2 linked regions of the Homo sapiens genome follow. The protein of the gene in region 1 interacts with the protein of each later gene in a biochemical or structural test. Each region holds a gene or a part of one and is shown in the gene's direction. Other genes may lie near its edges.

Region 1 (8,768 bases):
GGTGGGAGACAAATGGTTGCATTCTTTTGAGTTTCTGATTTACCTTTCCTAAGGAGGCAGTCAGATACACATTTATCTCAATGAGCAGAGGGATGACTTTGAATAGAATGGGAGGCAAGTTTGTCTTAAGTAGTTCCTAGCTTGAATTTTCCTTTTAACTTAGTGATTTGGGGGCCCAAGATATTTTCCTTTACATTTGCCCCCTTTTCTTTTTTTTAAAAAAAATTTTTTTTTGGAGAAAGCATTTTAGAAGAAAAATGAGTCTTTGGTCCCAGATTTCATCTGATCGCTCATGCTAGGATGGTTTATTCCTAGACAGGTAAGTCCCAAGTTATTAGGAAAGCTAATTTTTAGAAGGCTGTGAACTCCCATGTCTTGTGAAGAGAAAATAGGGGGAGGAAGGGTGAAAAACAACAAACAAAAGAACAATCCTGGAAAATATACATAGGCCACGTTATTCTGAAGTCCATACATCAGTAGGCAGGTATGAAAGTGGCTTATGCGTGTAAATAGGTTGCTGTTATTTTCTTCTGAAGTTTAAGTTGTCTAGCTTCAGTTTGCAGGGCTTTACAAAAGCACAGCTGTTTTCAGTGACTCCTAATTAGGAAAAAAAAGGAAAAGAAAAGAAAAAAATTAAAAATATTATTTTGGAGACTTGTAGCCAGGAAAAATTAGAATTCAGCCTAAACTGTAGAAAATAATAAAAATTGAAAAAATTAGGCAAGACTAGTATCTAACAACAAGTGGACTGTAAGTTTTGAAACAATTTTTCTCTCTCCAGTTTTCCATTTTTACTAAAGACAAATCATGGTAGGACTGATTTGCTTTATTATATTTGACCAGATTATTTATATAAAGTGTAGCAAGAATAATTATTTTTCACATAGGCTTTTTAAAATTGGCTTTGAAGGAACTTTGTTCCATAGAAGGAATCTCAGATAAGATTCTTTTTAAAGCCAAGCTCAGCCATGGATTTGTACCATCAAATACCTATGAGTAGGGTGAATTTCCTCTTTTTGATGTTCCATGATAAACCAGGGGCTCCTGGACCTGTCAGAAAATGACATTCTTTACTTAGCACATATCAGAAACCCTGTACAGGGACTTTGTAAAGTGTGAGGCCAGTTTTCCCAAGGGCTTTTATTGGCTCCATAAGTCAGGTTTGATTACTTAAAGGAAAGTACACCTTTCCACTCAAAGCCTTGGTAAAATAATCAGTTTCTCCAACTGTGTCCTGTTACAAATGAAAACAGATTCTTACTGCACTTATGCAAATAACTGTATTGGCACAAGTTAAGAATACTCACAAATAGTTTACAAATTCTGGAGAAATCAGGTAGAGAGAAACAAATATGCTCCAAATTTTGTTGATTGGAGTATACTAAATTGTTAAAAGCTGTCAATAGCTCAAAAGAAAAGTTTCAAGGCTCTGAAAAACAAAGCAAAAGATCAGCAATGTTTAAGCAAAAAGTCAAAAAGATTAGTTCAGTCCCCTTAGTTAATTCCTATTCTGCTTGATATTCATGAGCATTTTAGCTCTCCATGAGTTCTGAAAGTTTTTCCTCTATTCTCATGTAACAATCTCCAAAGTTAATGGAGACCTGCATTCAAGAGGAAACAACAGGTGCTGGAGAGGATGTGGAGGAATAGTTACGTTTTTACACTGTTGGTGGGAGTGTAAACTAGGTCAACCATTGTGGAAGACACTGTGGTGATTCCTCAAGGATCTAGAACTAGAAATACCATTTGACCCAGCCATCCCATTACTGGGTATATACCCAAAGGATTATAAATCATGCTACGATAAAGACACATGCACATGTATGTTTATTGCAGCACTATTCACCATAGCAAAGACTTGGAACCAACCCAAATGTCCATCAATGATAGACTGGATTAAGAAAAAATGACACATATACACGATGGAATACTATGCAGCCATAAAAAAGGATGAGTTCATGTCCTTTGTAGGGACATGGATGAAGCTGGAAACCATCATTCTCAGCAAACTATCACAAGGACAGAAAACCAAATACCGCATGTTCTCACTCATAGTTGGGAATTGAACAATGAGAACATTTGGACACAGGGCAGGGAACATCACACACTGGGGCCTGTCGTGGGGTGGGGGGATGGGGGAGGGATAGCACTAGGAGAAATACCTAATGTAAATGACGAATTAATGGGTGCAGCAAACCAACATGGCACATGTATACATATGTAACAAAACTGCACGTTGTGCACATGTACCCTAGAACTTAAAGTATAATTTAAAAAAACAAATTTAACAAAGAAAACATTATCAAGAATAAATAATGAATCTCAAAAAACAACAACAGCAACAACAAAAAAAAACACTTTCTAAAGAGGACCAAAACAACACAACAATTGTGCGTGGATGACTAAAAGTTTTAGGGCAGCCATAGGCAAAGACACAATTGACAAGGAAATTTGATACCTCTCCTCTGTAGCACACAATAATTTTAACGTAACAATTATGATTATTACTGATAATGTACACTAGGTCATATCAGAATTACAGGAATTTCCCATAATTTTGGAACACATACCAATAACATATTTATACAAATACATCTCAAAGAAAGCCAAACACTGTTGCATATTTGACAATGCTTCCTGTGTAATTTTTGTACCAAATAAGCCAAATTATGCCATTTTTGGACTTCAGGGAATCTAATATCTTAAAGGACTAATTAGGTCAGAAAAAGACATAATTTATAATTTGATTTTGGAAAGTTTGTCAAATATCAAATGTTTAAAACACCTGATATCACAAAAATAGGATCACAGGTCATTATAAAATAAATCATTCATTTAACCAAAGTGATAACTCAAGGATTTCATAAAAAGGTGAAAACCTTCATTCTTTGAGAGAGGGGACTTAACTTTCCAAACAATAAGCCCTAATAAAAACAGCATGAAGCTAATTAAATTTGTTTTCAAAATTTTATAAACAATCTATAAAATTTTAAACTTGACCATAAGATATAATTTCTAACTGGGCGTGGTGGCTCACGCCTATAATCCCAGCACTTTGGGAGGCCGAGGTGGGCAGATCAGGAGGTCAGGAGATCAAGACCATCCTGGCCAACATGGTGAAACCCCTTCTCTACTAAAAATACAAAAATTAGCTGAGTGTGGTGGCACGCGTCTGTAGTCCCAGCTACTCGGGAGGCTGAGGCAGGAGAATCGCTTGAAGCCAGGAGGCGGAGGTTACAGTGAGCTGAGATTGAGCCACTGCAGTTCCAGCCTGGGTGACAGGGCGAGACTCCATCTCAAAAAAAGAAAAGAAAACAAAAGATATAACTTCCATAAGCCTTTATAACCTTTATTAAGGAGTCAGTTAATGTGTCAAGAAAACCTTGTTAATCTGATTACAGGGGCCCATAAGCTGATCTTGCATCATTGTGCCTTTGACGTTAATCATTAATTTATAGAGAAACTGAACTTATTTTATCTTTCAAATTTGGACCTTACAGTCTTACCTGCCCACCTCTTCTTCGATAGTCTCTGGGCCTTGAGGAGTTGAATGCCTTTAATTTCTGGCCGTGTATCTCAGGAATGCAGTTTATTTTGATTGGCGTCTTCTACGGGGCCTGAAGATGACAGCTTCAATTGCTGTCAGTGTTTAAGATTTAGTAGGACTTGGTGTCCTTTTTAGACCCAGGAGTCAAAGCCCTGTAACCTAAGGTCACAAGGACTTTAAAAGCACATACAGGAAAATACCCAGTTGTAATCATGTTAATTAAAAAATCTTTTTTTAATCTCAGTTTTTTCCTAAACATAGGAATTATTTCAACAAAATGTAAACTCTGTTAGGTCAGTTACCAAAAAGCAAAAGAAAAGACCTTCTGCAATGCACAGAACATGATGTTGGAAGAAAACACTTCCTTTAGACCTTTAAGACAGTGTGCCTTTTTAAAGGGGAGAGAAAGCTGAAAAAAAATGGCAAGATGCAATAAAAATTGAACTTTCAGTTTTAAAAAAAAATTAAATTCTCTTATAATTTTTTTTTTGAAATAGAGTCTCGCACTGTTGCCCAGTTTGGAGTGCACTGGTGCAATCTTGGCTCACTGCAGCCTCTGCCTCTTGGGTTCAAGCAATTCTTGTGCCTCAGCCTGCCAAGTAGCTGGGACTACAGGCACATGCCACCAGGCCTGGCTAATTTTTGTATTTTTGTTAGAGACGAGGTGTCACTACGTTGGCCGGGCTAGTCTACAACTCCTGACCTCAAGTGATCCACCTGTCTTGGCCTCCCAAAGTGCTGGGATTACAGGCAGAAGCCACCATTCGTAGGCAAATTCTCTTATAATTTATTAAGAGTAAGTTAACCCCTTAAGAAAAGTTTATTTTTCTAACCAATAATTTCGTGTATATGTGTCTTTTTTAACATGAAGCCCAGTCTCTAGAAAGAGCATTATAATTTCCTTTTAATTGTAAACATGATCATATACAATTTTTTTAAAACAAATCCTCTTATTGTGACATACACAGACCATTCATGACATGCTTGAACTTTTATCTTAGGACTAAATTTACCATACAGTATTCTTTCTCATGTAAAATTATTTCTAAGCTTTCTTACCACATACAAAAAAAATTTGTTTTATAACTTCCTTTACAACATCTCTCTTATTTCCTGATTCCTTTACCTTGTTGTATACATAACCTTTAAATAAGTTTTGTGGGGTTTTTTTTGTTTGTTTGTTTTTTATCTGAGACAGAGTCTTGCTCTGGCACCCAGGCTGGAAGGCAATGGCCCGATCTTGGCTCACTGCAACCTCCACCTCCTGGGTTCAAGTGATTCTCCTGCCTCAGCCTCTCGAGTCGCTGGGATTACACGTGCACCACAATGCCCAACTAATTTTATATTTATAGTAGGGACAGGGTTTCACCATGTTGATCAAGCTGGTCTTGAACTGACTTCAAGTGATCTGCATGCCACGGCCTCCCAAAGTGCTGGGATTGCAGGCATGAGCCGCTGCCCCTGGCCTAAATAAGCTTTGAATTAGACAAAACTTGTTCACCGTTTTTGGGGGGTTTTGTTTGTTTTTTTGTTTTTTTGAGATAGAGTCTCATTCTGTCACCCAGGCTGGAGTGCAGTTGCGTGATTTCAGCTGAGTGCAGCGTCTGCTTCCTGTGTTCAAGTTATTCTCCTGCGTCAGCCTCCTGAGTAGGTGGGATTACAGGCGCCTGCCACCACGCCTGGCTAATTTTCATTTTTTGTATATTTAGTAGAGACAGGGTTTCACCATGTTGGCCAAGCTAGTCTCAAACTCCTGACCTCAAGTGATCTGACTGCCTTGGCCTCCCAAAATGCTGGGATTACAGGCATGAGTCAGTGCACCCAGCCCTAGAGTTCAACTGTTTTTTTATTTTCTTATTATACTTTAAGTTCTAGGGTACATGTGTGCAACGTGCAGGTTTGTTACATATGTATACATGTGCCATGTTGGTGTGCTGCACCCATTAACTCATCATTTACATTAGGTATATCTCCTAATGCTATCCCTCCCCCCTCCCCCCACCCCACGACAGGCCCCGGTGTGTGATGTTCCCCACCCTGTGTCCAAGTGTTCTCATTGTTCAGTTCCCATCTATGAGTGAGAACATGTGGTGTTTGGTTTTCTTTCCTTGAAATAGTTTGCTGAGAATGATGGTTTCCAGCTTCATCCGTGTCCCTACAAAGGACATGAACTCATCCTTTTTTATGGCTGCATAGTATTCCATGGTATATATGTGCCACATTTTCTTATTCCAGTCTATCATTCATGGACATTTGTGTTGGTTCCAAGTCTTTGCTATGGTGAATAGTGCTGCAGTAAACATACATGTGCATGTGTCTTTACAGCAGCATGATTTATAATCCTTTGGGTATATACCCAGTAATGGGATGGCTGGGTCAAATGGTATTTCTAGGTGTAGATCCTTGAGGAATTGCCAGTGTCTTCTACAATGGTTGAACTAGTTTACAGTCCCACCAACAGTGTAAAAGTGTTCCTATTTCTCCACATCCTGTCCAGCACCTGTTGTTTCCTGACTTTTTAATGATCACCATTCTAACTGGTGTGAGATGGTATCTCATTGTGGTTTTGATTTGCATTTCTCTGATGGCCAGTGATGAAGAGCATTTTTTCATGTATCTGTTGGCTGCATAAATGTCTTATTTTGAGAAGTGTCTGTTCATATCCTTTGCCCACTTTTCGATGGGGTTGTTTGATTTTTTCTTGTAAATTTGTTTAAGTTCTTTGTAGATTCTGGATATTAGCCCTTTGTCAGTTGGGTAGATTGTAAAAATTTTCTCCCATCCTGTAGGTTGCCTGTTCACTCTAATGGTAGTTTCTTTTGCTGTGCAGAAGCTCTTTAGTTTAATTAGCTCCCATTTGTCAATTTTGGCTTTTGTTGCCATTGCTTTTGGTGTTTTAGACATGAAGTCTTTGCCTATGCCCTGAATGGTATTGTCTAGGTTTTCTTCTAGGGTTTTTATGGTTTTAAGCCTAACATTTAAGTCTTTAATCCATCTTGAATTAAGTTTTGTGTAAGGTGTAAGGAAGGGATCCAGTTTCAGCTTTCTACATATGGCTAACCTGTTTTCCCAGCACCATTTATTAAAAGGGAATCCTTTCCCCATTTCTTGTTTTTGTCAGGTTTGTCAAAGATGAGATGGTTGTAGATGTGTGGTATTATTTCTGAGGGCTCTGTTCTGTTCCATTGGTCTATATCTCTGTTTTGGTACCAGTACCATGCTGTTTTGGTTACTGTAGCCTTGTAGTATAGTTTGAAGTCAGGTAGCGTGATGCCTCTCCAGCTTTGTTCTTTTGGCTTAGGATTGTCTTGGCAATGCAGGCTCTTTTTTGGTTCCATATGAACTTTAAAGTAGTTTTTTCCAATTCTGTGAAGAAAGTCATTGGTAGCTTGATGGGGATGGCATTGAATCTATAAATTACCTTGGGCAGTATGGCCATTTTCACGATATTGATTCTTCCTATCCATGAGCATGGAATGTTCTTCCATTTGTTTGTGTCCTCTTTTATTTCGTTGAGCAGTGGTTTGTAGTTCTCCTTGAAGAGGTCCTTCACATCCCTTGTAAGTTGGATTCCTAGGTATTTTATTCTCTTTGAAGCAATTGTGAATGGGAGTTCACTCATGATTTGGCTGTTTGTCTGTTATTGGTGTATAGGAATGCTTGTGATTTTTGCACATTGATTTTGTATCCTGAGACTTTGCTGAAGTTGCTTATCCGCTTAAGGAGATTTTGGGCTGAGATGATGGGGTTTTCTAAATATACAATCATGTCATCTACAAACAGGGACAATTATAGAAGGACTGGGGGTCCTTCTATAAGCATTTCTAATAGAGGGTCCTGCCTTGCCGCTCTTTTGGCTTCAATATCCGCTTGGCAGTTCCTTTCTGTTTCCCTTTCCTTTCTGGTGACTCTGGCAGTGTAAGACTGCCACCTCTTTAGGTTTCTGTACAGCCAATAGTAATCTCCTAATGGCTTCCTGATGTTTGATAGGTGTTCCCTCGGAAGTTAGGAATTCCCCTCTCTCCATATTGCTGCATGGGCATGGAGGACTAGGTAAGCGTACTTAGAGTCTGTATATATATTTACCCTTTTCCCTTCTCCTAATTCTAGTGCCCGAGTGAGGGCTATTAGTTCTGCATGCTGAGCACTAGTTCCTGGAGTGAGGGGATTAGTTTCAAGTATTCCATTATCACTGACCACTGCATACCCCGCTTTTCAAAGTCCTTTTTCTGCAAAGGAACTTCCATCAGTATACAAGTTGAGGTTGGGATCAGTCAAGGGAACCCCTAAAAGGTCCCCTTGAGCAGCATTAGGTTTGAGCAATCACATGTTGGCATTTATGTTCTATCTTTTCTTCATTGTCTGGAAGAAATGTGGCTGTGTTAAGAGTTGCACAAGTGCGCAGTCACACCACTGGCCCATCAAGTAATAGAGCCTGATATTTAAGTAAACGGTTGTCTGACAGCCACAAGTCTCCTTTAGCAGTGAGTATGCCATTCACATCATGAGATGTTCACACAGTAAGATCTCTTCCCTGTATTACTTTAACTGCTTCAGATACTAAGACTGCTACTGTTGCCACTACCCGTAAACAATGAGGCCAACCCTTTGCCAGTACATCAATTTCCTTACTCAGGTATGCCACAGGTTGCAAGCTGGTCCCTCGGACCTGTATAAGGACTCCTAGAGCTATTCCTGTTTCTTTTGCGACATATAAAGAAAAGTCTTGCCCCATTGGCAAGCTTACCACTGGGGCTTGGGTTAGGGCCTTCTTTAGGGCCTGAAAAGCCACTTCTGCTTCAGGTGTCCATCTTACTAAATGGGTATTGGCTTTCTGAGTTTCCTTAGTGTGTATAATGGCCTGACTATTTCGCTGTACCTGGGAATCCATATTCGGCAGAAGCTTGTTATGCCAAGGAACCCTCTTAGTTGCTTTAGGGTTTTGGGATGAGGATAAGCCAGTATAGGCTGGATACGTTCCTCACTGAGGGCCCTTGTGCCTTTGGATAATTTTAGCCCTAAGTTTTTAACCTGCTGTGAGCAGAGCTGAGCATTTTGTTTGGAAACCTTGTAGCCACAGGTAGCAAGGAAATTTAAGAGTGCTTGGGTGGCTTGATGGCACCAGGTTTCTGATCGGGTGGCTAAAATTAAATCATCCCCGTACTGAAGGACAAGAGTGTCCAGGTATGAGAATTGGCTCAAGTCTTGGGCTAATGCCTGG
Region 2 (7,000 bases), on another chromosome or scaffold:
TGTGACCAAATGTCTGAGGATTTCTCTCCAAACACCAAGTAAGCAGTCAGTTTTGCGGTGGACGTCAGCTAGGTGTCCTCCTGTTCAGTGTTGACACTACCTACCTGGAAATAGTGTCAGATCCCGTAGGTTGAGGTCCCAGTCCCACAAGATTAACCCCCTCTTCCCTGCCACTTGTAATGCCAGTTGAAAGCCCCAGGTTGTTTTACCTGTGCTTCTGACCAACTGGCTGTAAATAGGGGATCCCATGACCCCCTCCTTGGATTCAATTAATTTACTAGAGAGGCTGACAGAACTCAGGGAAACACTTGCTTTCATTTACTGGTTTATTATAAAGGATACTACAAAGTATACAGATGCATAAGATGAGATATGGGGGAAGGATCTTGGAACTTCCATGCCCTCCTTGGATGCATCACCCTCCAGGAACCTCTATGAGTTCAGCTATCCAGAAACTCTCTGAACCCCCTCCTCTTGGGTCCTTTATGGAAACTTCATTGGCTAGGCATGATTGAAGCATGGACAACAGTGTTGAAATATGACTGGACAGAAAGGGTCTGATCTCATATTAATAGACTGATTGGGGAAACCCAAGAAGGCCTGTCCAGATTCTTCTGGCCTCTCCATGCGACATTCCTTCTTCCAGGGTATGAGGCAGGACCCTCCCTGGAATGAAGTTCTTGCAACTCTTGGCTCAACTCCTGAGGCCTAAAGTGCACCAACGTACAAAAGACTGTAACGAGGGCTATGAGAGTTATGAACCAGGAACAGTGGATAGAAACCTGTGTGCGCGCGTGTGTGTATTGGATGTACAGTACTGGAGTATGTATGTGGGTGTGTGTGTATACTCTATGTCCAATACACACACGCCGCCACACATATGTATACACACATATGTAAATTATATATTTATATACACACATATACATATGTATGTATATGTATACATTTTGTATATATAGCTCATAATATCACAAGTACTGTATTCAGAAAGGAGACCAGAGACAATTTGTTTATATACTTCATTGAGCCTTTATTGAGGATCTGCAATGGGTCAGATTTCCATCTATGGAAATGGATCTGAGATAGAGTTGCTCCCCTGAAGATTCTAGTGGCTTAGTTATGAAGTTATGGGCGTCGGTTGGACTGATGGTCCTTTAAGGACCCGATTGTGCATAGCATGCTTGCCACTGTGTGGTACGAGCTGGTTGTGACGACCCTTCACTTTGCTTCCCACACTCAGCATAGAGGTGGCCAACCTAAGGCCAAAGCTATGTGGCTTCTTGGGGCTCTTGAGCAAGATTTGAAACAAGAATAGAGAAAAAGAAAATTGTGACCATGATTTAAATGATGCTGTAACAAAGTTACTGTTACATGTTTTTAAAAGACTGAAAGAAGAGTAGAGGCTCTTGAAAGAGATTTCAATGTAGCAAATTGTATTTTGAAATAAAAATAATAGAATTGTGTCCTTTTTTTTAGTAGACACAAATTATTCTGAATCCTGTTCTTGGACAAGTGGGCAATTTTGATGTACAGCTTTTGATAATTTTTTTTTGTTTTCTATTTTTCTCTTAAATCACAAAATTCTGGACTGGAAAGTTTCTTCTAAGCCATGCTGTCCAACACCATTATCTTTTTCCTCTACTTCTTCTTTCTTTGCCTACTCTATTTCCTTCCTCTCTTATTTCTTCTCCATGTTGTAATGATAATAACTTTATTTGATGCTGCAAATTATAAATGCTGTCATATAAGTTTTCACTTATCCTTCTAAAGAGATGTGGAAGATAGGCAAAAATGGGCTTACTTTACAAATGGAAATAAGATCCAGAGTTGTTGAGCGAGCCACATGAGACCTCATAACTAATAACTAATGTGAACAGTCTACTATGATAAACTCAGTACCAAATACACAACTTGCTTCCATACAAGAACTACATTCTGTTTCCGGAGGCTAAAGCAAAACTAGACCAGGGCTGCCATGGGTATTGTGGGAAAAGCATGGATTTTGGAGTCAGATAGTCCTGTGTGAGAGTCTCAGCTCTGTTCCTCTATCATTCATTTAAGCATTTGGGAGATATTCATCAACTGCCTCCCATGTGCTACTGTCTTCATAGACCCTGGGGATAAGTGGTGAAGAAGGAACATGGTGCTGCTGCTTCAATGAATGAGCTTCTTGAACATGGATCATATTCATTGATGAGAATAAGCCCATAGTATATGATGAAATGTCCAGTGGAAAATGCTATAAAGTACTTTAAAGAAAATGTTATAAAGAAAATAAAGCGAGATAAAAGGATAGAGAGATGGCATGGCAGGGTAGCCAGGGGTGATGTGATGTGTTTCAGATAAGGGAGTCCAGAAAGGCCCTCTGTGGAAGTAACATTTGGCCGATTTGAATAATGCAAATATCTGGAGGAGAAATGAATCTGAGAGTGTTTCTCAAAGTTCAAGCACATTGGAATCACTCGAGACAGCTTTACAAACCATACCAAGCCCTACCTTAGGGATTCAGGTTTAACTGGTCTAGGGTGGGGCTTTGGTGGTCCTTTTGAGAGGCTCCCCCTTCACATAGGGGTTAATTATTTTGTCCTCTCTACTTTCGTGTATGTTTGAAATCTTTCATAATAAAACCGTTTTATACACGTGTGTGTGTGTGTATTATGAATGTGTGTGTGTGTGTGTGTGTGTGTGTATATATGTATATATATATTTAGGCTTCTCAGGAGATTCATATGAACATGCTGGCTTTTAAGCCACTGAGATAGAGGGAACACTGGGTTCTAGTCCCTCAGCCAGGCTGAGCTTGCCTCATTTTCCAGGAGGAGCCAGGAGGCCCACAGGACTGGAGTGGATATGAGATTGAAGAGTGGCCAGGGGCCAGGCCCTACTTACTGGCCAGGTGATATTGATCAGTTACTTTTTCATTTTGAAATCTCAGTTTCCTCATTTGCAAAACCTGGATAATACTTACCTTTCAGGGTTGTTGAGAGGATTGAACGAAATGATAACATGGCAGAATTGTTCTCAAACTTGAGTGTGTATTGGAATCTCAAATTTGAGCATGCATTGAGTGTGCATTTGGATATATATATGTACACACACAAAAGCATGCATTGAGTGTGCATTAGAATATATATACACACACATGCTTGTGTGTGTATATATGTATATATATACACATATATACATGTATACATATATACACATATATGTGTATATACACAAGCATGTGTGTGTGTGCATATATATTCTAATGCACACTCAATGCATGCTCAAGTTTGAGATTCTAATACACACTGAAGTTTGAGAACCATTCTGCCATGTATCATTTCATTCAATCGTCTCAACAACTCTGAAAGGTAAGTAGTATCCTGGTTTTGCAAATGAGGAAACTGAGACACACACACACACACACACACACACACGTATGTATATATATATGTGGAAAATACTATATGTGTATATATATACACACACATATAGTATATATGAATATATACACATGTATATGTGTGTGTGTATATATACTAATCACACTCATCAATGAATGTGATCCACGTTCTCATCAATGAATAAGTTCTATGTTCATGTATGTATGTGTATAGATAGATAGATAGATACTCTTCTTTTTTATGCATTATATTTCTAACCAGCTGCTGAATGATGCTGAGGCTACTGGTCCGGGAATCACACTTTGAGAACCACTGGTGGATGGGGAGCATCTAGCATGGTGCTGAGGCAGTTCTGACATTGAGAGCTAAAGTCAGAGGCAGGAGAATACCCTAGAGATGAGATGCAATGGAAATTGAAAGATGAAAGTGAGACCAAAAAATGTCTTAAGACAAAAGCAACATCCATTTTAGGGCTCCCTCTCCCTGATGTTTAAGTTAGTGGTCACTTGGGAGTAAATGTGGTCCCCTGAGCAGTGCTGAGAAGTTTCCCTGAGAGAAGGGCCATGGGTCACTTAGAAAAGCTCTTCCAGTGATCTGCAAGTCAGGCCCTTGCAGGAACTTCAGGCTTCGTTACCATGCCATTAACCACTGCCCATAGAGTGTGGAACCAGTGCGCAGAGGCTCACAGCTTCAATTTAGAGAAAATAAATGTTGGACTGAAAAGCTCTGGCTGATGGCTTGACTTATTAAGTTTTTAAATCTAAATATCTGGCACTGTGAGAAGGGGCAGCCTAAATTGTGTTTTTGTCCTTGAATAGGGCTTCTAATCAAAGAGTTTGGTGAGGAGCAGACAGTACTTTCCCAGGGACTGTTCTTCCCTGTGCTCTTGACCTACTAAAATTCTCAAAGACCAGCATGACTGGAAAAACTGCATTTGGGCAGGCTGGGCTGAGAGAAAGTTTGGCCTTTAGAGAGAAACACAGATCCATCTCACAGGAGAAGAGATTTCACTCTATAGATGTGAAATCCCTACTCCTATTTCCCCAGATGGGATAATAAGCCAATTAGCATCATGAGCCCCATTACTTCAGGATTGTAAAACTGTTCTGCTCCTTTCTGTCATCCTTCTGATTACCAGCGTGATTGATAGAATCATTCTTGAGCCCTGGTCACTTATGGAGCTGAAATTTACTTGTGGGCAGAGCCACCATGTCTCCAGGACACCCGTCTGTGGCATTCTACTTCCCACCATAGACCAAGGCCAGCTCCTTCTTTTCTGTCTCCCTTGAGTGTGCAACTGGGTAGATAAGTTAGAGTCTCAGTTTTTCCCTCTCCTCGCATCTGTCTTAGGATAAGCCTGTGGGTATGAGGCCATGCGAGAATGCTGGTCTCAAGGTTCAGATTTGGTGGAAGGAGGGGAGAGGAAGGAGTAAGATGCCTCCCTTCTGTCTCCAGGTATAAGCCAAGCTTTATGCTCTCACTCTGTCTTTCACCAGATTGCTGTATGGCGATTACAGGAGGTGGCTATTAATAAAACAAAACACTGATATTTCATTCAGCCTTGGGAATCCCTTGAGAAGAGAGATGACTTGTAGGGAAGGGTATAGGCATTCTGAATGCTTGGACATAATACCATACCAACATCTGGAGTGAACCAGCAGGTGAATCTGGGGCAATGCTGAATAGAGGTTCTTGTCTCTATACATGTGCCTTTTCTGGACATTTTGCAGAACATCTTTAAGCCTCAGTTTTCCTGTTTGAAAAGTGGGTTTACTGATGGTCCATACCTCGTATCATTATTTGGATTAAGTGGGATAATCCATGTAAAAGCACTTGGATCAGTGCCTGCTGTTCAGTTAATACTCAGTAAACATCAGCTATGAGTATTGTTTTACCTAGCTGTGTGCAACCCTGAAGGATTAGACCTATCACATTTTCTTAGAGAGGTCTTAAATATTAAATCAGATTTAGCCAACTATCTGTCTTTGTAGAGTCTTGGCACATACTTCCCAGCAGCAGCTGCAGCTTTGACTTCTGCCATTAGAACTGCTTTACTTTGATGAAAAATACTTATTTTTCATACCATCTGAGTCTATTACTTGCCCCAAAGTGGATGGACTTGGACAGCTTTTAGATAAATAGATTGGGGGTGTTTCCTGTCCCTCTGAGGAATGGAAATGAGCGCTTCTGTGAGAGGCAAAGAGAACTCAATGCACACTCATGAGTGCATTCACAGGATTTGAGAATATGTGATTTATCAAGACCACCTTGTAGTTAGTGGTGTAAATTCAGATAAACACCATAAATTGGAGGTAATGAGTGGTGCCTTTCTCCAGGCCTGGATGGGTGATGGGACATCTACAGGAGATTACTCCTGTGTGGGGATTGCAAGTGTCATTTGCAAACATTACGACATTTTGACACATCTCATATGTAAATGCATAGCATCTCTTTCAGAGTTTATTCTGTTTGGGACAAATAAGTGTACTGTTGACAATAATATTTCTCAGAATACTTTAACCTTGTAAATATAATTGAAAACAAATTGCACAGATGTTTTTTTTCACGCATTTGAATCACCATTGCTGAGAAATATACCAGTTTAATGTTTCGACAAGTTAGCCAGCACGATAGCATCTCAAAAATTAGTGATAACAGTAACAGATTTCCTGGCCATGCATTCCCCTGTCTCCAGCCTCCATTTCTTCACTTATAAAGTGGAGTTAATGATGCTTACATCACAGGATTATTGCAAGTATTCATGATTAAGCCCAGCCTGGCTTAGAGCAGGTTCACTGTAGATATTGGTTTTCCTGAAAATGTACATTACAGTTCTGAATCCCAGTTCTTTAATCTGGAAAAAGGAGATTATCGTACCTACCTTGTTAATGAAATAGTAACCTACCTTATTAATGGGAATGATATCTAATATTTACTAAGTACTTATTATGTGCACCACATAATAGAACTTTAGATGGATTATCTAGTTTAATCCTCATAATCATTCCATGAAGTAGAAACTTATTAGACCCATTTTGCAGGTTAGTAGTGGAAGAGGTTAGATTCTACCCAGACGGTGAATCTGAGCCCATGCTATTACCACCACACTGTCTTTTCTGACTAGCTTTTCTGATTTATGAGACAGCACTTTGGAATAGTATATGGAAAAACTTGGCACAGTACCTCATCTGTTGAAAGTGATAATATTCATCTTTCTCTATACCTGCCTTTCTCCTGGTTCCTTTCTGAACCCTTCAGAAGCAGCATCTAAAAAAAAATACTTCTTCTGGCCCTTTGGAGGCCTGTTGGGCAAACACACCAGGCTTAGGGACTCAGGGGAGCATCTCAGTGGGAGGTCCGTTCTGGGTGGCCTGGAGCAGGAGTACTGGCTTAGGGAAGGAAAGGGTTCCCATCCAGGCTTTGCCACCAACAGCGTCATCAGCTGACTCTTGGCAAGTCACTCACATTACACAGCTAAGCTAAGACCCCTTCCTGCTCTAAGATCCTGTGTGATGGGTCTTCTTTATCTTTATCATTAGTTTGTGGTCTGGAACAATGATTTGGGAATGACATGCAGAGAAAATACAGCTAAATAAGGAGACATTGTA

Evidence for each region. Proteins that work in one complex are often made in the same cells at the same time.
Region 2: the proteins of ACOT13 (region 1) and PCTP form a complex in vitro, tested with the Homo sapiens proteins (one study listed by BioGRID).

Annotation. Positions count from the first base shown.
Region 1 is NC_000006.12:24,669,342-24,678,109, forward strand, and holds part of ACOT13 (acyl-coenzyme A thioesterase 13), read left to right. Parts: exon of another isoform or gene 1-597; intron 598-1,307; exon of another isoform or gene 1,308-8,768. UniProt on the Homo sapiens protein: Catalyzes the hydrolysis of acyl-CoAs into free fatty acids and coenzyme A (CoASH), regulating their respective intracellular levels. Has acyl-CoA thioesterase activity towards medium (C12) and long-chain (C18) fatty acyl-CoA substrates.
Region 2 is NC_000017.11:55,754,051-55,761,050, forward strand, and holds part of PCTP (phosphatidylcholine transfer protein), read left to right. Parts: exon of another isoform or gene 1-38; intron 39-7,000. UniProt on the Homo sapiens protein: Catalyzes the transfer of phosphatidylcholine between membranes. Binds a single lipid molecule.